Linked DNA regions of Homo sapiens: regions 1 and 2 are each reported to be linked to region 3. The links are microRNA targets in miRTarBase. Many come from high-throughput screens and were not tested one by one. Region 3 holds a microRNA gene; each other region holds the end of a gene's coding sequence.

Region 1 (7,206 bases), not on the chromosome of region 3:
AGGTCAATAAGTATTGGTAATTTATAATTGCACAAGGAGAAATTCTAGCACAGTAATCCCATATGAAAGCATATTTTTCTCTAACTTATAAGCCAATAATTATTTGCTAAAGTGGTAATAACATTATTCAGTTCTTCAGTACAAACAAGAAAAGAGGTGACGTGTAAAAGTCTAACTGCTTTTCCATTTTCATCAGTTTTGTCAAATCATAATCTACAGTGAAGTTTAATCATGTTGACCATCATTTTTAAACCTCTTAAATTTATTCCAGTCTAGTCCATTTTGAAAGCTACCGTTATAATATCATTATAATGACTCATAATTTTTATTGGCCTAAGCACTGTGAGGATTATTTAGCTCTGTTTACAAATATAATTTCCATAGGTTGAAGTACTCTTTGCAAACTTGCAGGACTTCAGCCAGGTGTGGTGGCACATGCCTGTGGTCCCAGCTACTCTAGAGGCTAAGGCAGAGTTCCTTGGTCCTTAAGGCCAAGAGTTCGAGGCTGCAGTGTGCTATGATCATGCCTGTGAATGCATGTTTTTTGTTGAAGCTCATTTTAAAGCTATCACTTTGTTGAATTGCCATCATAATTATTTTTCTTGATATTCATTGTTTTAGAACTCATTTTCTTTCTAACTGCATACTGTTTTGGCTTTCTCAACCAGCTGGTGCAACTATTATCTCAGCCACTGGAGCCTCTGCACTGCCACTCTGCCCCTCACCTGCTCCTCACAGTCATCTGCCAAGGGAGGTCTCACCCAAGAAGCACAGCACTGTCCACATCGTGCCTCAGCGTCGCCCTGCCTCCCTGAGAAGCCGCTCAGATCTGCCTCAGGCTTACCCACAGACAGCAGTGTCTCAGCTGGCACAGACTGCCTGTGTAGTGGGTCGCCCAGGACCACATCCCACCCAATTCCTCGCTGCCAAGGAGAGAACTAAATCCCATGTGCCTTCATTACTGGATGCTGACGTGGAAGGTCAGAGCAGGGACTACACTGTGCCACTGTGCAGAATGAGGAGCAAAACCAGCCGGCCATCTATATATGAACTGGAGAAAGAATTCCTGTCTTAAACTAAGTGCCTTACTGTTGTTTAAGCATTTTTTTAAGGTGAACAAATGAACACAATGTATCTACCTTTGAACTGTTTCATGCTGCTGTGTTTTCAAAAGCTGTGGCCATGTTCCTAAATTAGTAAGATATATCCAGCTTCTCAAAAAATGTATATGATTGCTGTTAGCCATGTCTATTGTTTTTCCTCTGGATTCTTTTCTTATAACTTGGAATACACAAAAGTGTAAAACAAGAGATGTGCACCAATGAAAACTATGCTGGGTCGAATTACCTTCAGCACAATGTTAATGTTTTTGTTCTCATTTATGCCTTTGTCCATTTGCACACAACAGAAATTGTAATGAGCTTCACTATTTTTGTTTCTTTCCTTCCTTTTTTTTCTTTTTTCCTTTCTTTCCTTTTTCTTGTCTTGTTTCTTGTTTTTTTTTCTTGTAGTTTCTTTTCTTAATTGTCATTTTTGCAACAAAAAGCCAAGAAAGAGCTTTAGTTTCTTGGCAAGAATAATGTGATATTAGTAAGTAAAGGTCTTAAAAGTCTGACGACTGGAATAGATATAAAGTCCTGTTTAAACTACCTAACCTTGGCTGTGGGCCGATAATGCATATGTCCAGTTCTCACTTAAATTATGCAATGATATTTCTCTCTGAGGAAATTATACGGAATGTAACTTATAAAAGCTTTACTGAATATAAGTTATAAGCATTTTATTCATTAGAACTCCAAAATAGATGTTCAAAGTTCAGTCCTTGCCATTTGACTGAGACCACATGGTGTGCCCCTTGAGTGAGGCTAATCTTTAGGTTTTTCCTATAGAAAACATTCTTCCTCCATCAGTAGCCCTTTATTTGATATTCAGAAGTGGAAAGCTTTTTCATTCTCCAGTAGAACTTTTAAAAATTGTTACAGATACCTAGCTCTTCACAGATATCATGTACTGTAAACAGTCATGTGTCTTAATTTTATTTTCTCTATTTGAGTGCATAATTATCCTAATAATCCCAAAGACACTGACAACTCAAGGAACAGCAGTACAGTACTATTAGAAGTTAAGTATGTTGTTGTTATTTCACATTTCATTTAATTGTGGATAAATGTTAGACATCTGTTGAAATAAGCTCATATGGTGGAAACGACAACTATATTATGAATTATTTTCAGAAATGGATCTTTGAATAGCAGATCAGGATTTAAATAATAAAATTATCTATGAATCACTTTTATGGTCATACATATATGATACAAATCCAGAGTTATTGGTGCAGAAATGGCTACCCGAGAGCTTGGTAAATTTGCCTTGGTTTCTTATGTTAAATGTATTGTGCTTCCCTTCTGTCTCTAGAATGTGGCTCTTCAGAAGACAGACAATCGACATTTAAATTTTTCCAAACAATGAAAAACTAAATTAAAAACATTGCTTGATATTTCATTTAAAATTGCACCTTGCTTAAGGTTTACTGAATAACTGAAATGTCAGCAATTTAAAATAAATTCAATTGTGTGATAAAATATCTCACCTATAATAGAAGAAAAGGAAAATCATATTATTTGGCAATTTTGCAGCATTGTGGTTGCCTAACAGGTATATCCAGCAGATGAGAAACAGTATGAAAGGATTGTATTAACATGGTAAGTTTTGCCCTAAGGAAAACGATCTTGCATTCTGGATTCTTGCAGCAAAGTCTCAGATACTTAATACGTTTTCTTGTTTTATCATCTGTTCTATGATTCGGCTTCACTTTGTGTGGTTATTGAATTATGTAACAGAGATTTGGTTTTCCCAAAATGTTATCACATTTGAAACTATGATTGCTTTGTGTTCAGTCCTTTTGGAACACGTAGCTTCCAGCTTAAGGGTAGAGAAATATATACCTAAAATCATCAATACATGAAAGAAAAAGGATGGAAACTATGTCCTCAGTTTTACTTCTACCAAAACATCCCTGTATGTGTGTGCATGTATGTTGGCGTGTGTGTGTGTGCATGCATATTAGTAAATGTGTGTTTGCATGTGTGTGTTGGGGAGTGTATGTGATCTGGGTGTTTGTTTATCTCTGTTATTATTCCCCTTTAGCTTTATTTTAGTCAACTCTACATTATGATGAATTTCAAAATGAAGCTGTATTAAAATAATTGTAATATAACAATTCAATCTCACATGTTACTGCAGATAGTTAACTTTTGCTGCAATCTATTGTACATTTGCAATTTTCTGTGTTAGTAAACTTAGCAGAATCTGGTTATTTATTTTTGTGTAGGCTTAATGTTCACTGAAAGATAAGTCAATTACTGTTAGTAAAAAATTAAGGTACTCTCACTGCAGAGATTTAAGGCCTGGGCCTAATGTGCTGTATTATGAAGCCTTGTGACTGAAAAATATGTTTACATATGTTGTCTATTTTTTTAATAAACTTTTATAGCTGGTCTATTTGCTCAGTAGCTTTGATCCTCTCTTGATTATTGTGACTATAGTTTGCAATGGTTTATTTTGTATTCAATAAGAAAAATTGTGTTAATAAAGATTATTGTTTAATAAGCCAGGTATTAACCTGCTAAATATATTAAACTGAAAATCACTAAATGAGTCATTCAATTAAATACATCAAAAAAGGTAGAATGAAATGTTTTATTTCAAATTTTTTTGGTTTACATATGCATTGAAAAGTTATATTTCATGGTGAGCGTTTTGCAAGTCCAGCTTTTCAGAAGACACACTTTTGCAGAGTGAAATGAGTATGAGAAAAAAATCTCAGTGATTAAGGAGACATGTTGATTTTATTGTTTAATTTTATGTTTAAATCAGAGGAATTTCAAACACCACTTAACATGTAGAAATTCTTACTAAGTGATAAAAGCTTGAGTGAATGAGGAAAGCAGATCGCAGGACTTCATGGAGATCATAGCATTACCCCACCACATGGGAGGGAGCAAAACGTAATGTGCATTGAATATCTGTTAAGTATGGGGAACCCTCCTAGGTGCCTATAGAAGACAACTCCTGTAATTCTCTTTAATAAAAATTGTGAGAGAAAGCCAGGCATGGTGGCTCACGCCTGTAATCCCAGCACTTTGGGAACCTGAGGTGGGCGGATCAAGAGGTCAAGAGATCGAGACCATCCTGGCCAACATGGTGAAACCCCTTCTTTACTAAAAATACAAAAAATTAGTCTGGCATGATGGTGCCCGCCTGTAATCCAAGTTACTCAGGAGGCTGAGGCAGAAGAATTGCTTGAATCTGGGAGGCAGAGGTTGCAGTCAGCCGGGATCGCACCATTGCACTCCAGCCTGGTGACAGAGTGAGACTTAATCTCAAAAAAAAAAAAAAAAAAAAACAAACTGTGAGATAAGTAATACTACTCCTATCGCATTAGATATGAAACAGACACAGAAAGGTTTGGTAAATTTCCAAAGACCCAGTCTGAGTCAAGTGATCACCATCTACCTGTTCACACCTGTGGTTAATAGTTGTAAGCATGGTGTAGAAGATGAGGACATCTTGCAAATGAGCTTTGTAAATGTTATCTAAAGCTAAGGTAGTTTCTCTCTCATCAAAAAGTCAAAAGTCTAAAAATGTATGAGTACCATTGAAGTTAAATAAGATATAGAGATAAATATTGAAATTTGAAACATTTTATTTAGGAAGCAAGAATTGCAATTCAGGACATACACAGAGACCAGGTGATCTTCAGTATGTCCAAAGAACAAAGAGACAGGAGTTTTATTAAAGAATTGTTACATATTGTTTTGAAAGAAAGCTCATTGGCACTAGAGAAGCTTTTGGACTCTGGCAAGCTCTGGTTGGTGAGTCATGGCAGGAATTAAAACAAGTCTTAGAGTCACAAATTGTTGCTTCAGCAGCTACCAGGTAAAACTGGCCCTGGGGTGACAGCAGGCCATTTCAGCAGCTGGGCTTGGAGAAAATACATTCGTGGAGTAGGTGCTATGTCCCCCACGTATGTTTTCCTCTCTGGCCCCTCAGTTCTGATTTAACTGAGTATGTATGACAAGAATTGCCCAATTTGTATTATTAACTTTCACAGTACTTATTTAAAAATAAAACACTATTAGCTAATAACACTTAATACAATGGAAAATGCAATAGAAAGGAGTAAAATATGCATATCTGATAGATCAACTCAGAGAAATGAGGTATTCTGTTCAATAGGTTCATAAATGCCATGGTCTGAATATGTCCCTCAAAATTCCTATGTTGAAATCGTAACCATCAAAGTTTTGGAATTAAGAGGTGGGAGGTAATTAGATCATGAATTCTCATGAATGGGGTTAATGCTGTTTTAAAAGAGGCCTGAAGGAAGCTGTTATCCCTTTACACCATGTGAGGACACAGTGAGAAACTGCTATATATACACTAGGAAACAGGCCCACAGCAGACACAGAGTCTGCCAGCACCATCATCTTGGACTTCCCAGCCTCCAGAACTGTGAGCAACAAATGTGTGTTGTTTAGAAGCCACCTACTTTATGTTATTTTGTTATAACAGCCCAGATGGACTAAGACAATAAATATGGTGAAATTATGTAAGAACTGCAATATACACATAAAATAATTTAATTGGGCTTAAGCTGTCTCTATTCTTTACTTCTGCAAAGATCAACATGCTGAAACATAGTGAAAGATGAAGTATTTGTGAATGAAACAATGTAATCGGTACCAGAGAGTGGAACAAAAACTAGCTATTGTTTGTGGTGGCAGGCGCCTGTAGTCCCAGCTACTCGGGAGGCTGAGGCAGGAGAATGGCATGAACCCAGGAGGTGGAGCTCGCAGTGAGCCGAGATTGTGCCACTGCACTCCAGCCTGGGCAACAGAGCAAGACTCCATCTCAAAAACAAACAACAAACAAACAACAACAACAACAAAACTAGCTATTGTTTTTACAACCAAGCAAAATATAGCAGGTCCACACATAACATTTTTTCATTCAATGTCATTCTGTTATAATATTAACGAGGAAAAAAATTTGATTCCCAGCCAGGGCTGCTGTCTGTGGGGTGTGCACTTTCTCCCCATGTCTGCGTGGGTTTTCTCCAGGGACTCTGGTTTCCTCCCACATCCCAAAGACATGCATGCCAGGTTAACTGGTGTGTCTCAATTGTCTGAGTGTGAGAGTGTGGGTGTGTGAGTGTGCCCTGCCATAGAATGGGGTTGATTCCCACCTTGTGCCTTGAGCTGCTGGGATGGGCTCTGGCCACCTGCGACCCTGAACCAGAATCACTGGGTATATAATTACCTTAAATTGTTTTCATTAATCTTAGATGTATGTATAGATAACATTTATTTCAATGTTTAGTGTTAGAAGTGTTTGGGGTCTTTATTTAGCGATTTAGTGGTGTTTTCGTGACCAGAAATATGCCCTAGGAACTTAACTGCTGTTTTTATTAATTCACCTGTAGTGAAATTGGTTTTGTGTTACCTTGTTTTGCTTAAAGTCACAGTTTCCAAATACCTATAGACAATGTTAAGTGAGGACTTCCTGTAAGTAGTTTAGATTGAGGAGCTTCCACACACTGACAAACTCGTTTAGTGGCTACTGTGTTAGGCACCACGAAAGAGACACCAGATGTAGCGGAGAGCAAGGAAGATGAGGCTTGTCCCCTGCCTGGATGGTTTTAATGAGAAACTGTGCTCAGGGCAACTGCATGGACATCATGTGACTTGTGCAGTCACACAGAGCCTCACACTCAGATGGTCCCTGAGCCTGACTTTCATGCTCTGTGAACATCATCTTGAAATTCTTAATAATTTTTAAAGAGGGAGCCCTCATTTTTATCTTTCACAGGGCCTCACAAGCTATGCGGCCAATTCTGACAACAAGCGAAGGGAGTGTTAAAAAAAGGTGAAGTCACTGGGGCTTTGATAGCATTAAAGGAGTTCATCTAATCTTGGGTGGGTGGGAGGTGTCAGGGAAGTGTCTGAGGAAGCCAGGATGTCCACTGGATGAGGAATGCTCCATGCAGAGTTGCTAGCTTGTGAAAAGTCCTAAGTCATTTTTCTTGTGCTGCATTCCATATTTTCTCTTTGTTTTTGGCTCTTAGCATTTTTGCCATGACACATCTAGTTATGGATCTCTTTGCATATATACTTCTTGGAGTTTGTTGAATTTCTTGAATGTGTA
Region 2 (7,206 bases), not on the chromosome of region 3:
GTTGGCTGACATGGGAGGAGGAATTTTGGGGGAATGGACTTTAGTGTCAGATAACGGAAGGAAGAGAGAATGAAGTCCCCTTTTTGATGTTGAAATTTTTTTTTTTTTTTTGAGACAGTTTCACTCTTGTTGCACAGGCTGGAGTGCAATGGCGCGATCTCGGCTCACCGCAACCCCCGCCTCCCATGTTCAAGCGATTCTCCTGTCTCAGCCTCCTGAGTATCTGGGATTACAGGCACCCGCCACTACACCCGACTGATTTTTGGTATTTTTAGTAGAGACGGGGTTTCGCCATGTTGGCCAGGCTGGTCTCGAACTCGTGACCTCAGGTGATCCACCCGCCTCGGCCTCCCAGAGTGCTGGGATTACAAGCGTGAGCCACCGCACCCGGCCTGAAGTCTTTATAATTATGGTTTTGTTTAAAACAATGTTTGTTTGTTTGTTTGTTTGTTTTTGAGACGGAGTCTCGCTCAGTCACCCAGGCTGGAGTGCAGTGGTGCGATCTCGGCTCGCGTCAAGCTCTGCCTCCCAGGTTCACGCCATTCTGCTGCCTCAGCCTCCCGAGTAGCTGGGACTACAGGCGCCTGCCACTACGCCTGGCTAATTTTTTTTGTATTTTTAGTAGAGACGGGGTTTCACGGTGCTAGCCAGGATGGTTTCCATCTCCTGACCTCGTGATCTGCCCGTCTTGGCCTCCCAAAGTGCTGGGATTACAGGCGTGAGCCACTGCACCCGGCCAACATAATGTTCTTAATATATAGAAGGTACTCATATCTTTTAGTGAATACTTTATTCATTACCACCCAAAATATTACTTTTTAATTGCCTGACTAGTTAAATAAATACATCATAAAAATTAGGATGCTTTGTTTTTTTTTTTTGTACTTTGGTAAATTTTGCAATAAAATGGAAACTGTTTTTTTTCTCTTGATAGGCGCCCTTGGGATGTCCAATAGGGACAGCTATTTTTACGCTGCTATTGTTGCAGTGGTCGCCGTCCATGTGGTGCTGGCCCTCTTTGTGTATGTGGCCTGGAATGAAGGCTCACGACAGTGGCGTGAAGGCAAACAGGATTAAAGTGAACATCACCTTTTTATAGCATTAAATTCATTTTTTAAAATGATAAATGCTGGAGGGGGCCATCTGATTTGAATAAAGTTGAAAGAACATGTTAAAGTCAGTCTTAAGGAGTCACGTTTGAGTATGTAAATTTTGATCTTTCTAATATGTTGGTTTGTATATTCAGTTTTAACTGTATGAATCTGATTTGCAAATGAGAATTTGGAAAAGTTAGTTACAAAGAAATATGTTAATTTAATTAGACAATACTCTGGAAGGAATTTTATCTTCTTTCAACAAAACATGTTTTATAGTATTCTGACTTACGGTTGCTTTTGAGTTTTACTCATTTGGATATATTAAGATGCACACAGTGAAGCAAATTAAACTCCACTTTACGCTGGAATGCTTTCTTTAGCATGAAAATACCAGGTCCTTGGATTTGGGATTTTAATTTCCTATGGAAAGTTGCTTAAATTGTGGACACTGGAATTAATCTGAATGTCACTGAGGAATTTCACATGAAGTGTAATCCCTAGTCAATAAGAATTATCCATTACATTATTTTATGGGAAAACTAGGCTAAATTACATCCATTCAGGTAAAAGGACCTTAGCTTACTGAAGGATCTAAAGAGCAAAGCAAAGATCTCACTACTCAAACACTCAGCCTGCTTCCTTCAAGTCCCCTTGCAGGCCAGCTTTGTGCTTTGCAGACCAACTTTTTAATGAGATACTTTGCTTCCTCATTCAACATTGAAGCTAGGCTTCAATTAAAAGGTTCGAGGAAGCTCCATTTAAAATTGTTTTTTTTACTATTTTTTAAAATTGTAGTGTATATGATAGGAATTTGCATTTAAATATGTTCATTTTTGCATATGTTAGGAGTGGAAACAATCTGGAAAACATTTTTTTTTCATCCAAAAAGTATTCTCCTTGGGCATATCTGATGGAAAAAAACCTTGATTTTATTTTCGTATCTTTAGTCTGTGTTCTTTCTAGTTATTTGGTACTAATTATGTGCAATCTAAAAACACTCCCACAAGTATTTGTTTTTTAATTATAAAATCATAGTATATGTTCTTTGTAGAAAACTGGAAAAATACATATTCAAACAGGAAAAAAAATCAAAATTCCCCATAATGTTGCCATCTAAAAATAACCTCTATTTTAGTTGATATCCCGTATTCATTTTTGAAAGCCATTCCTTAATGCTAGTTTGATACACACTAAAAGTTTAGCTTACAAGTTCAAATTCTGCCAGCTTTTCCTGACAGCTATTTGCATTTTTTTCAGATGAGTGATTATTGGCCATTTTCTTTTTCTTTTTCTTTATTTTATTTATTTATTTTTTTGAGACAGAGTTTTGCTCTGTTGCCCAGGCTGGAGTGCAGTGGTGCAATCTCGGCTCACTGCAACCTCTGCCTCCTGGGTTCAAGTGATTCTCCACCTCAGCCTCCCAAGTAGCTGGGACTACGGATGCCTGCCACCACGCCTGGCTAATTTTTTTTTGTATTTTTTTGTAGAGACGGGGTTTCACCATGTTGTCCAGGCTAATCTTGAACTTGTGACCTCAGGTGATCCACCCGCCTCGGCCTCCGAAAGTGCTGGGATTACAGGCGTGAGCTACCACGCCCGGCCTTATTGACCATTTTCTAAATAAGCACATTCTATCTTTATTCTCTTAAAATTCAAATTTTCTGTTACTGATAATCCTAATACTAGGATTCTTGCTTAAGTATGTGAAACCATTACCGATTTGTTGTTCACATTTATTTTTTATGTTGTGAAACTGGACTAAAGGAATAGAGGGATGATTAGTCATAAAAGTCAAATAGCATTTGTGTTTAACTGTTGAGAAAAGTGAAAGATCAGTATGATTATTATGGAACTGTTTTTAATTCTTGCTTAAAGACTACAATTTTAGTATAATGACATTTGAGTCTAGGGTAGTATGTGGTAGATTTCTAGATGGTCCCTAATTAAGAAGTATTGTTGTATTTAGAATTGTCCACCTAATTTCTTTTTATATAATGCCAAGGTATTTCTTGTGCTTTTGGGATCTTATGCTGTTTGTAAAATGTTACTGTCCAATGTTGGATTATTGTTTTGGTTTCAGGCATTTGCTGAATAGGTGATGATACATGGGTATTTTTCTGCAAGTATTTAAACCAGGGGCATATGCAAAGGCAGTTGTAATTTCCTCTTGGAAAAAGCGCCAAATGTTTGAAGGTTAAAATCAAATGCTAGGGTTGATATTTAGGCTTATAACAAAATAGGCTTGTTTTCAAAGCAGTTTTTTCCTAGAGTTTTAACTGTTAACTCACTAGTTTGCTGCTGTTTTTAACTATGTTAAATAACATATGGTATTTGGCAAATAGATTTATTTTTCAAAATGTCTCACTAGTTTCCTTTTACACAATGTATATACTTCAAGATGTATAGAAAGGAAAGCTACAGTTGAGCCCTTATACATGTTTTAAGGTAGAAATATGTTCCCTATTGTTTGAAAACTGATTGTAAGAATAACCTCAGTTAGGAGATATAACTTGAAGTGTCAGTCCAAACTACTGATTTAACCCTATTTACGGTAACACATTACCTTCCTCACCTCCTGTTTGGCCCTGGAGAATGTAGTCCTTTTTCTCATTTGTGTTGAGAAATGAAAAGTCTGCTGTAGAATGTATCTGATGTCATTAGTTCTTCAAATGGATACCATTGTACATATAACAGTAGAATTTGGTTTGGGGTTGTTAGTGAAAAAAAATTTAAACCTGCCATTAAAAATCCCCATGTTTCATGGAAATCTAACAGAAATACATTGTAATAATTAGAACATTTTGTTTTCTTTTTTCTTTTTTTTTTTTTCGAGACGGAGTTTTGCCCTTCTTGCCCAGGCTGGAGTGCAAGGGCGCAATCTCGGCTCGCTGCAACCTCCGCCTCCCGGGTTCAAGCAGTTCTCCTGCCTCAGCCCCCTGAGTACCTCAGATGACAGGTGCGTGCCACCACACCCGGCTAATTTTTGTATTTTTAGTAGAGACGGGGTTTCACCATGTTAGCCAGGCTAGTCTCGAACTCCTGACCTCAGGTGATCCACCCGCCTCCGCCTCCCAAAGTGCTGGGATTACAGGTATCAGCCACCGTGCCTGGCCTAATAATTGGAACATTTTCATCATGAAAATGTCATCAGCTTTGCCAAAAGAAACAACCAATTGACTTGTTTGGCGTTTGTTTTCCATTTTCATGTCAATTTTATGTATACAGTTAGAATACCCAAGGAGACCACTAAAATCAGTTAAACAAGTAGGGTATATACAAAGAAAGATGAAACCCGAAAGTACATAAAAAGGATTTAAATCCGATTTTAGATGTACCTAGTGTGTATTTCTTATCTCTAGACAAGTTCATGTTTATTGTTTAATTTATGCCCAAGTGAAGTTGTAAACTTATGGTTCAACTCTGACACAGAATTTGTCACTTGTCTGAGGTCAGTGGCAGGTTTCTCTGCTGTCAAGCACTCTGTGTCACCCACCAGATTAGTATAACTATTAATTCAGACTGTACTCCTATGTTTAAGATAATTTTTACAAGAGCTGGCTGAAGCAGCACATTAGTAACCTGACAAGATTTCTTTTTCCCTTTTCAGGGGGAAAGGGTCACCTTAAAAATAAATTATTTTCAGGGACTTTGGGAATCTAATGATAAATATTACACATAATCTATGAATAGCTTAATCCTTTATATATTCCTTAAAATAGGAATTCCTCGACATCACTCCTGGCCACACTTTCCTTGCCTGTGTTGTTGCTATGTGTATTTGAAAGTAATATCTGCATTCCTTTTAAGATGTTCTGTAAGTCATATTTGTCAGTTATACAGAGTAGTCTTCCTTTTCCCCACGTTCAGTGTAATCTCACTGAACAGTAATAATAGCAATAGCTAACAACATCTGCACAGCACCTTACAGTTTGCAAAGAACGTTCACACATTCTCATTTGAGTTTTGCATAGTGAACCTGTTACGAGATGTCTCTTGACGTCGATGCTAAAAGTGTTAGAATCTTTACATCACTAGAGTCATTGAATATGCTGTAGTATTGAATAGTGCCCTGACTAGGGGGAGGATTTGGATGTGCTGCATTTCAAGCCGTGTATAATCATCAAAATGGGGGGCTTGAGTTCTTTAGCTACTTGAATCCGATTTACTTCTGTTAAGTGATGCTTTTCTAACCGTTTTCTGGATGGATTTTGTATTCACTATATTGTAGCTTGTAATTTGTATAAATGTACCATCTGATGTCATTAAAAAAAGTGTTTGTAGTGCTACTTTGCTGTGTCCTGATTCAATTAATGTTTTATTAACCGCTGTGTTTTTAAAAATTTGTTTGCCTGCTTCTCATTTTATAACATGTAGAATATGTACAGAGCTCACTTTAAAAAATTTGTTCGTTGGCCTCTGTTTGTGCTATGTAGATTATATAGAGAGCTGTCAAGGATAAGTTTTTATGCAGTAAATGTCAACCAGAAATGCTCAAACTGATTGGGAGTGTGGGGGAGGGGTGTTGAGCTGTAAAGGGCTGGTTATACTTCGTCTGGGGTGGGCTTCAAATGCCCCTAAAGGAGAGTTGAGAAATGTGGAAATAGATAATTCCTGACGACGTCCACATGCCACCCCCTCATGACCAATGTCCTGTGTCCTCTGTCCTCTAATCACCCGTTGATTGCACTCCAGCTCCTTCCTGTGCTTCTGAGGACTCCAGCTAATTCTTACTAATAAATGTTAATATCCCCTTCCCAAACACATTTGAGACGTCTTAGTATTAACAAATTTTATAGGTTATGAGATGTCCAGGGAACTCAGGAAACAGGTAATGGCATTGCAGAAACTACAGGACAGCAGTTCTGAAAGTTTACTGCAATCACCTTGTAGGATTTATTAAAAATAACTGATTGCCCAAATGTAACCCAGACCTTCTGAATCGGACTCTCTGGGGGTGGGGGCCTAGAAAGCTCTTTGGGGCAGGGCGTGGTGGCTCATGCCTGTAATCCCAGCACTTTGGGAGGCCGAGGCGGCGGACCACGAGGTCAAGAGATAGAGACCATCCTGGCCAATGTGGTGAAATCCTATCTCTACTAAAAATACAAAAATTAGCTGGGCACAGTGGTGCGTGCCTGTAGTTCCAGCTACTCAGGAGGCTGTGGCAGGAGAATCACTTGAACCTGGGAGGTGGAGGTTGCAGTGAGCCGAGAGCCTGGTGACAGAGCAATACTCTGTCTCAAAAAAAAAAAAAAAAAATTTTGGAACAGGCAGTGATCAACATGAAGCTGGATTGAGAACTACTGCTGGAGATTTAGAATTGTGCCTCCCAGTGTATGTGTTTAATGATGGACTTGAAGATGTTTGTATAAAGCCTGAAGTAAGCACACACCTTATTAGGCAAAGGTAGAATGTTGATAATGCTATATCGAAGGTGCAATTTAAAATAAGGAGACCTTTACTGGGTTCCTGACAATCCATATTGACTTTGCTTCAGTGCTAATGAATGATGTTGAATGAAAATTTTAGTACGGGGAACAGCCAACTTAAGACACAACTGAGGCGTGCGTAGATAGACATGGCCACTGCTGTGCCTGTGATGCCTTTTTCTTATTTGGAATCCTCACTGCTGTGGACTTTGGAGAGAAGGAAAACCAATAGGAGTATGTGAATTTGAGGTTTCTAAACCAGAGAGGTAATGGAGAAAAGCAGAAATGGTTTCTAGGCACATTTGTGCTATTAACCCTCTGGCTTCCCTGCCCCCCATTACCTTTCACTGCTTACGTGCCTGCACTTCCTTTCACATACGCCCTGCTCTTGCGTCCATTAAAGATGCATTGAGGTTAGCCCTTTTGGTAAATACAGGATGAAGGTGGAGAACATTAGTTCGCAACCTGGCAACCCAGGGATGCTTTCCTCCAAAAGAGGATCCAGCAGCCCTGAGGGAAGGGATACTACAAATGGCACACCCTGCATCTGTGTGCATCTCACCACCTTCAATGCTCCCACTTCGGGCCAGCCCAGATTTACTCCTCGCCTGGAGCCTCAAATTGGTTTCTTCTGCCCTTCTTGCACCTGTGGTCACTTTGCCACAAAGCAACTAGAAGTTTCC
Region 3 (7,206 bases):
AACAAAAGGACAAATTTCCTCTCCTATAAAGGTATTTCCCAAAGTCCAAATTAATTCTGTGACTCTGACCTAGAGTCACAATATACACTAAATCCAGTGCAATTCAGAAGTATGCATTTATTTCTGAATTTCATATATTTAACTGTTTGAAATCTTATTGAACTATCTTTTTTTTAAAGTTATGGTACTTTCTGTATCTGTTTTTCCCACTTTCAAGACAGAGTAAGATATATAATTAAATATAAACTTGCTTAAAGTTTTTAAATATTATCTTATTACATCCTTACCACAGAGAAATTATAGCTAGGCCTTCATCAAAATAACCAACTACTATGTAAACAGCATAAATGTGCTACATGCTATGCAGCTTCGTTTAAATGGAACTTGCCCCCTGGCCTTGAAGTTGTAAGTGAGACAGCACTGAAGACAGGTTGCACTGAGACAAAGAGCAGTGGCCTGGATATTGTTAAAAACCTATCACTAATTAATAAGAATTGGATGGATTACCCATTTTATTCATTTCCCTTGGCTTCATGACAATTATGCATTGACAACATCCTACACCACAACTACTGAAACCTTACAACACCATTTAAAACAAATTCAGTTTCAGAGAAAATGACACATTGCTAAAGCAATCACACATCCAGTCATTAAATCTGCTGCAGGGTCTGAACTGAACAGGCTAGAAATGAAGTAATGCTGCCACTTGTAAAACTGTCCATCTGCTAATGGGCACCCGCCAGCTATGACCAAAACTGATCTCCACAGGGTACACAGAGCAGTGGATTGTTCTGGGACAGCGGCGATTTACCACATCTCAGGGCCCTGTACTCACAGAGGAAGGGGGTGGAAAGGGGGAAGGTAGAACAGATTATTTTGCCATAAGGCAGATGAGAAAACCAATGCTAACTGTATAGTCATCACCTCTTTAAAGAACAAAAGAGAAGACTCCATAGGCGAACGGTCAGGCTATAACACTAACAAACTTCAGTAAATTCAGGAACTTCACAAAAGATAACCATCTTTAACTCGTCCTTGACCCTGTCTGCTCTTCTTTTATTTGGAACTTCATGGGTGAACATCATTCTCTAACCTCAAGATCATATGCACATGGGTGGGCACATGCACACATGTGTCTATCTTGACTGCTTCAGTGATCCTGTAGGTCTGACAAAGTCACATAAGAGATACTGGGCCAGGTGCAGTGGCTCACACCTGTAATCCCAGCACTTTGGGAGGCCGAGGCGGGTGGATCATGAGGTCAGGAGGTCGAGACCAGCCTGACCAACATGGTGAATCTGTGTCTCTACTAAAAATACAAAAATTAGCCGGGCATGGTGGCACGCCCCTATAATCCAAGCTACACAGGAGACTGAGGCAGGAGAATCGCTTGAACCTGGGAGGCAGAGGTTGCAGTGAGCCAAGATTGAGCCGTTGCACTCCAGCCTGGGTGAGACTCTGTCTCAAAAAAAAAAAAAAAAAAAAAGAGAGAGAGAGATCCTGAAACCACAAGTTATAGGAGTCTATATGCATGTGGGGGTATTTTTTGTCACCTGGTTAAAAGAAAGGCTTAGTCAACTGGATGCGGAAACTGCAGAAATCAACCTCTCCTGCTTTCAGGAATAGGCTCCTCTGCCAAGGCTAACACAGGAATATTCGGTTGATGAAGTGAATCTCTTTCTTCCGTCCACCTTTATCTCCCTCTGTATGAAGTAAAAACAGGAATGTCTGCTTTCTTAACAAAGAGGTTTTGCTAATGCTTGAGAAATGCCTTGACGGTGCAAAGTGATAGGTGTTACTGGAGTGAGGTACCACAGGAACAGACAAGCCAGGGCATGGCTGGCTGCTGGCTGCTCTGGTAACTGATGGTGCACCTGGGTGTTCTGTTTGGACCAGAGCACCAGACCTGCTCACACACCCTTCTCCCTTCCTCACTGACAGTCTCTAAATTGAGCAAATGCTGACAGCCAGTAGGAACAGGTCCCCAGCTTTCCTCCCCAGGGCTACCATGGTGCATGGACAGCCTTATTGTCAAACCGTTAAAGCCCAGTAAGATGAAAAGGCTTAAACAGTAATGAGCTGCAACTTATTTTCCGTCATGAAGTTTTCACTAATAAAGACTTTACATCTCTTCGAGTACATGAAAAAGAAAGCCTTTTGTTTGTTTTAAAAAAATGAGCCATCCAAAGACAGAAGCACATGAAAGAAAATCTCTTTTAAATTTGTCCATCTCTTTAAAATTTGGGAGTGACCATGAGGCAAGATAAGTCTATAAGGTATTTTGATAGAAATCATTAAGATAGACTTAAATTTATGAAATGAATAGGCCACACCTAATCAATCTATTTTCTTGGCCACCTTCCTGATCAATGTAGGTCAATCTCGTTTTAGCTATTATGTTTAATTGGTTTTTTTCAAAATGGTAGTTCCTGATCAGAATCATATGAGTCACAGTTCAATTCATCCACTTCATACTAAACTGCCTCTCTGGTAATGACAACTAATAGTGATTGTACACTTAGCATACACCAGACACATGCTGGCCTTGTCCATATATTACCACATTCAGTCTACACGACAGCCTTGCAAGAAGGGTTCACATTTATCCCCATTTACAGATAGGGAAACTTTGCCAAGGCTACCTAACAAATAGGGCAGAGTCAGGACTGGAACTCAGTGGACTCCCAAAATGGGCCTCTTAACCACTATGACATGCTCCATAAAACCCATGGAATCAAATCATTGATTCATACACAAATATATAGAGAGACATATATCTTAATGTACATATGTATTACATATACACACAAACACACACACACATATATATACACACACGCATATATGTGTGTGTGTGTGTGTGTGTGTGTTTACTCAGATATTCAGAGCCACGGTACTTAAAAAATGTGGGCAACCATTTCTAAACCTTTAAAAGAAATAGACAGTCTATGCATGTAGACCCTCTTAATGGTCAATGTAAATCTGGTTCATTTTGCTTTACCAGCCCATCTCTGGAATAATGAAAATTTACCAAGCTGAATATCCTTAGCACAACCTTTGGACGTATTGTCTGCATAATGTATAATACTATGCATGTTAAGAAAGGGGTCTTAATGCCACACGCCAGTCTCTGACAAACCCCATCCTTGAAGTTTGATTTAGTATTGTTGGTTTCTGATTTAATACCAAAAATAATTCCAACCCTATAAATCTGTTTACCAAGGAAGACGGAGATAAAGACACAGGGTATGAGTGTGTCTTCACATCTGATATTACAGGTGTGAGTTTAATCAGACCTAAAGTTTTTATTACATTTGTTGAAACGTACCCCGTGTCAATAGGGCTCTTTTTCTCATCATCTGTGACAAGGATGATGTTAATTTCTCATGAGTCACATGTGAAGCAACCAGGGAAAGAAATACAATCAATCCACCCAGAAATTGAATCCACAAAGGTACCTGGTAATGGAATAGAAATACCATAGAATCTCCTTAGAGTTAAGGTCTGGACAACATCTATTGCTTGGCACTGAGAAGAATTTTTTAAAAGAGAGGAAATGGGAGAAGGATAAAGTGGAAATCTAATTTTGAGAAATAAGGATTAAAGGTTCCATTATTCATGCTGTTTTCACTGTATATATTGAGTTAACAACATGTGATTTTACTGGATGAAAATGTGGGCCACATGCAAGGAGAGTGTGGTGCAGATAAATCCCCACAGCGACAGTAATGAGTGAGGGTTAGTGTCTTGTCTGCGTGAGGCTGTAAACAGTCCTGGGTTCTGAGCTGGTATAATAAGTGGAGATTGTTCCTGGACTTACTGGGGAGCACAAATAGTTTCCGCTACAGGAAAAGCAGCCCCCCCCCCCGAGGCAGAGAGGCGCGGCACTGCTATCTTCCTGGTTATCCCGTGGTAATGTGCGAATTGTGGGCCCCGAAGTGCAAACCCCGGCAGGGGGCGGGGCTGCAAGCTCCTCAGAGTTGGCTGCCTGCCTTCTTTTATTTATTTATTTATTCTTTCTACACACTGTTTTGCTGATACTTCACAGGTAGGTGTTTCTTTTGCCCCCTCCCCTTCCTTTCCCAAGGGTTAGGGGGTCAGGGAAAGAAAAATCAAGTTACAAGTTAAGTGAAGGAAACCCTCAGAAGCCCACGTGTGGATCAATCCATGTTGATGGGACAAAAAGAAGAAAAACAGGGAATAAACTGACTTCTGAGCTCTAGTGAGTTCCAATCTATGCCACCCTCACTAAGCCTACACACATTATAAAATGAATCACCTTTTGGCTGCCTGATATTCACTATTAGAAAGCCTGCACATCATCGTTAGAGCAAAGATCAAATCAGAAGAGAATCATCAATGGATGCAAAATTGAGGGGAGATTTCGATGCAAGGCAAGACATTTGAATGGTCTTAAAGTGCCTCCCTACAGATTGCTTATTAGTTGTAAGGGGAAATACAGTATTAGGTTGGTGCAAAGGTAATTGCAGTTTTTCCCATTTAAAATATGGAAAAAAAAATCACAATTACTTTTGCATCAACCTAATAATTATATAATGGAGGACCCAGGAAACATTTTGACTAAGTGATCAAAATTAACATCACCAATGAGGGGGAGATGCCCATCGTTCACCTCTGGATGTGTCCCATCAGCTACGGTGCATGTCAGCCAAGAACACATTCAGGTTAGCCAGAATCTAACCACGAGGAAGCATCTGACACAATGAGAGGTGTTTTATATATATATATAAAAAAAAATGGGGGCCTGTATTCTTCAAAAACGCCAATGTCAAAAAAGACAAAGCCTGTGGAAATGCTCCAGATTAAAGGAGGCTAAAGAAACATGACAACTAATTGCAATACCTGACCCTAGACTGGATCCTGTATTGAGGAGTCAAAATGCTACAAGGGCCACTAGTGAGCCAATTAGCAAAATTAAAATATGGACACTAGCCCATATAAAAAGTATTGTATCGATATTAAATTTCCTGAAGCTGATAGTTGTACTATGATTACATAAGAAAATATCCCTGTACTAGGCCGAGCACAGTGGCTCACACCTCTAATCCCAGCACTTTGGCAGGCTGAGGTGGGTGGATCACGAGGTCAGGAGTTCCAGACCAGCCTGGCCAAGATGGTGAAACTCCATCTTTACTAAAAATAAAACAATTAAAAAAAATTAGCTGGGTGTGGTGGCAGGTGCCTATAATCCCAGCTACTCGGGAGGCAGAGGCAGAGAATTGCTTGAACCCGGGAGGCGGAGGTTGCAGTGAGCCAAGACTGCACCACTGCACTCCAGCCTGGGCAACAGAGCAAGACTCCATCTCAAAAAAAAAAAAAAAGTTTAAAAAAAAAAAAGTATCCCTGTACTAAGAATGTGCCCTGGAATATTTAGTGATAAAGGACCATAATATACATGTAAATTACTTTTAAATGGCTCAGAAAAATAGTATGAGTATATATACATTTACATATATTGTATTATAGAGATATATGTAGATATGAAGAGAGACCACAAATAATAAAACAAATTGGGTAAAATGTTAATAGGTAAATGTGGCTAAAGACTTTATGATGTACCTTGTTCTATTCTAATTCTTACAAGTTTTCTGCAAGATTGAAATTATTTCCAAACACAAAGTTTATCTAAAAAAAATTAAGCTTTCAAGTCAGTATTGCATCTTCCTTACTTATTTCATTTAAATAAATGCTCAACTCAGAGGAAATTACACAGAGATGCACTGACACATTTTACCTAGTCACTTCCTTACTCTGAGTGTATCTGTTCTACCAGAACCAAGACATCCTGTACTCAAAATCCTCTCTAATCTCTAACCAATAATGGGGTATTGATGGCAGTCATGCACAAGACTGACAATTTTTCATGCATAAAAGAAAACCAATAAAACAAAATTGCATGCTATCTTTTAAAGCCATGTACTCTTCAGCATTGGGATTCTGAAGAAATTTTACATTTGGAAATTTCCAATTATGGTAATAGGTGTCTTACTCTGGTATTCAAACACAGAAATAAAGTATCTAAATCAATGGCATTCTGAACATATTCAGCCTAAGACATACAACATGGTTTGAAAAAGCATGTATTGTAAGTTATGTTACCACTGCCCTATTGTTTAACTGAAAATGTTTTAATATTTCTTCATGGATAGCCTGCAAACATCCAAGCAGTGGGCAACTCAACCCAGACTCTCAGTTATGAGATCTGAATTAAAATCTTGCATTTCTATTTGATCTCTTTCTAATCCTATAACTTGATGAAGAGACTGACTTTCCAAAGTTGAGCCCAATTAGGCTAAGAGGAGCCAAGAATTGTCCCCACGAAGCACCCTCTTCTCACCAACATAGTAGCTTTTTTTCAGCTCTTTATTGTTGTTTAGAATAGTGAAATTGGGTTAACCTATTACAAACATCTGAATTTATTAGCAACTTGAATGGCGAAAGGAAGAGCATCAAATAGAAAAAATATTTGCTTCAGGGAACTCAGCAGTCCTGAAGTGTTTACTAGCACTCCTTGCCTTGGTGGGTCCTGACCACCAGTTATCTACCCAGACCTGTGAAAGACTGTTCTCATTTTCTTGCTTCTCAGCCGCCACTTTCTGCTCAGCCTCTCAGCCTCCCAGCTGCCACTTTTCAGTGAGCAAATGTCTGATGTTCAATGTCAGGTTCACCTCTCTGCACTTCCCCTCTTTTCAGGATCTTGGTCATCTCCAGTTCTTGCTGCCACAGTTGTTCTTCAGTGCTTTCAGACAAATAGTTGTTAATATTTATCCAGCTGTTCTAGTTATTCTTACCAGGAGAGTTGGGCCAAAATAAAATATTCTGCCACAGCTGGACTGTCAATATAATTATTAAGTGGACAAAGTAGGACGTAAAACTTGGCCAGAGAGAAACTTGAACGTTGCTAATAAGAAAAAGAACCAAAGACAGGAAGGATTTGGCTTTTATATTAATAGACATGGAAGCAAACAAACTTATCATGAAGACTTGCGTGAATGTTGCCCATTATTCAGCAAGTGACCATGGAGCTTCCTTCCTCACACTTTCCTTTGTCTAAAAACTGGGTGATGCTTTTTGCCCCTATTTAACTTTGCACACTCACGGAGAGAAAAACAACTTCAGTGAGTTAAAGTGGTTTTCCTAGCTGCACTACATGAATAATATAAATAGACAATTCATAGTACA

What was found. The annotated mature microRNA hsa-miR-570-5p reads AAAGGUAAUUGCAGUUUUUCCC and lies in region 3 at 4,480-4,501, shown strand. An mRNA with a match to its seed (bases 2 to 7 or 8) in the 3' UTR can be bound and repressed. Matches are read on the target gene's strand: a 7mer-m8 pairs with bases 2 to 8, a 7mer-A1 pairs with bases 2 to 7 and ends in A, and an 8mer does both.
Region 1: miRTarBase lists MAP3K21 as a target of hsa-miR-570-5p. Seed matches in the 3' UTR shown: 7mer-m8 at 1,344-1,350.
Region 2: miRTarBase lists VMA21 as a target of hsa-miR-570-5p. Seed matches in the 3' UTR shown: 7mer-m8 at 3,657-3,663.

Annotation. Positions count from the first base shown.
Region 1 is chr1:233,381,637-233,388,842 of GRCh38, forward strand. MAP3K21 (mitogen-activated protein kinase kinase kinase 21) reads left to right here. Exons shown (of 10, transcript NM_032435.3): 10 at 669-3,512. The coding sequence ends at 1,075. Among named protein-coding and RNA genes, the nearest start is that of MAP3K21, 58 kb to the left of the region's middle.
Region 2 is chrX:151,403,982-151,411,187 of GRCh38, forward strand. It overlaps VMA21 (vacuolar ATPase assembly factor VMA21), which reads left to right. Exons shown (of 3, transcript NM_001017980.4): 3 at 935-5,383. The coding sequence ends at 1,077. Among named protein-coding and RNA genes, the nearest start is that of VMA21, 10 kb to the left of the region's middle.
Region 3 is chr6:99,120,145-99,127,350 of GRCh38, forward strand. MIR548AI (microRNA 548ai) reads left to right here and starts at 4,465; the gene lies at 4,465-4,552.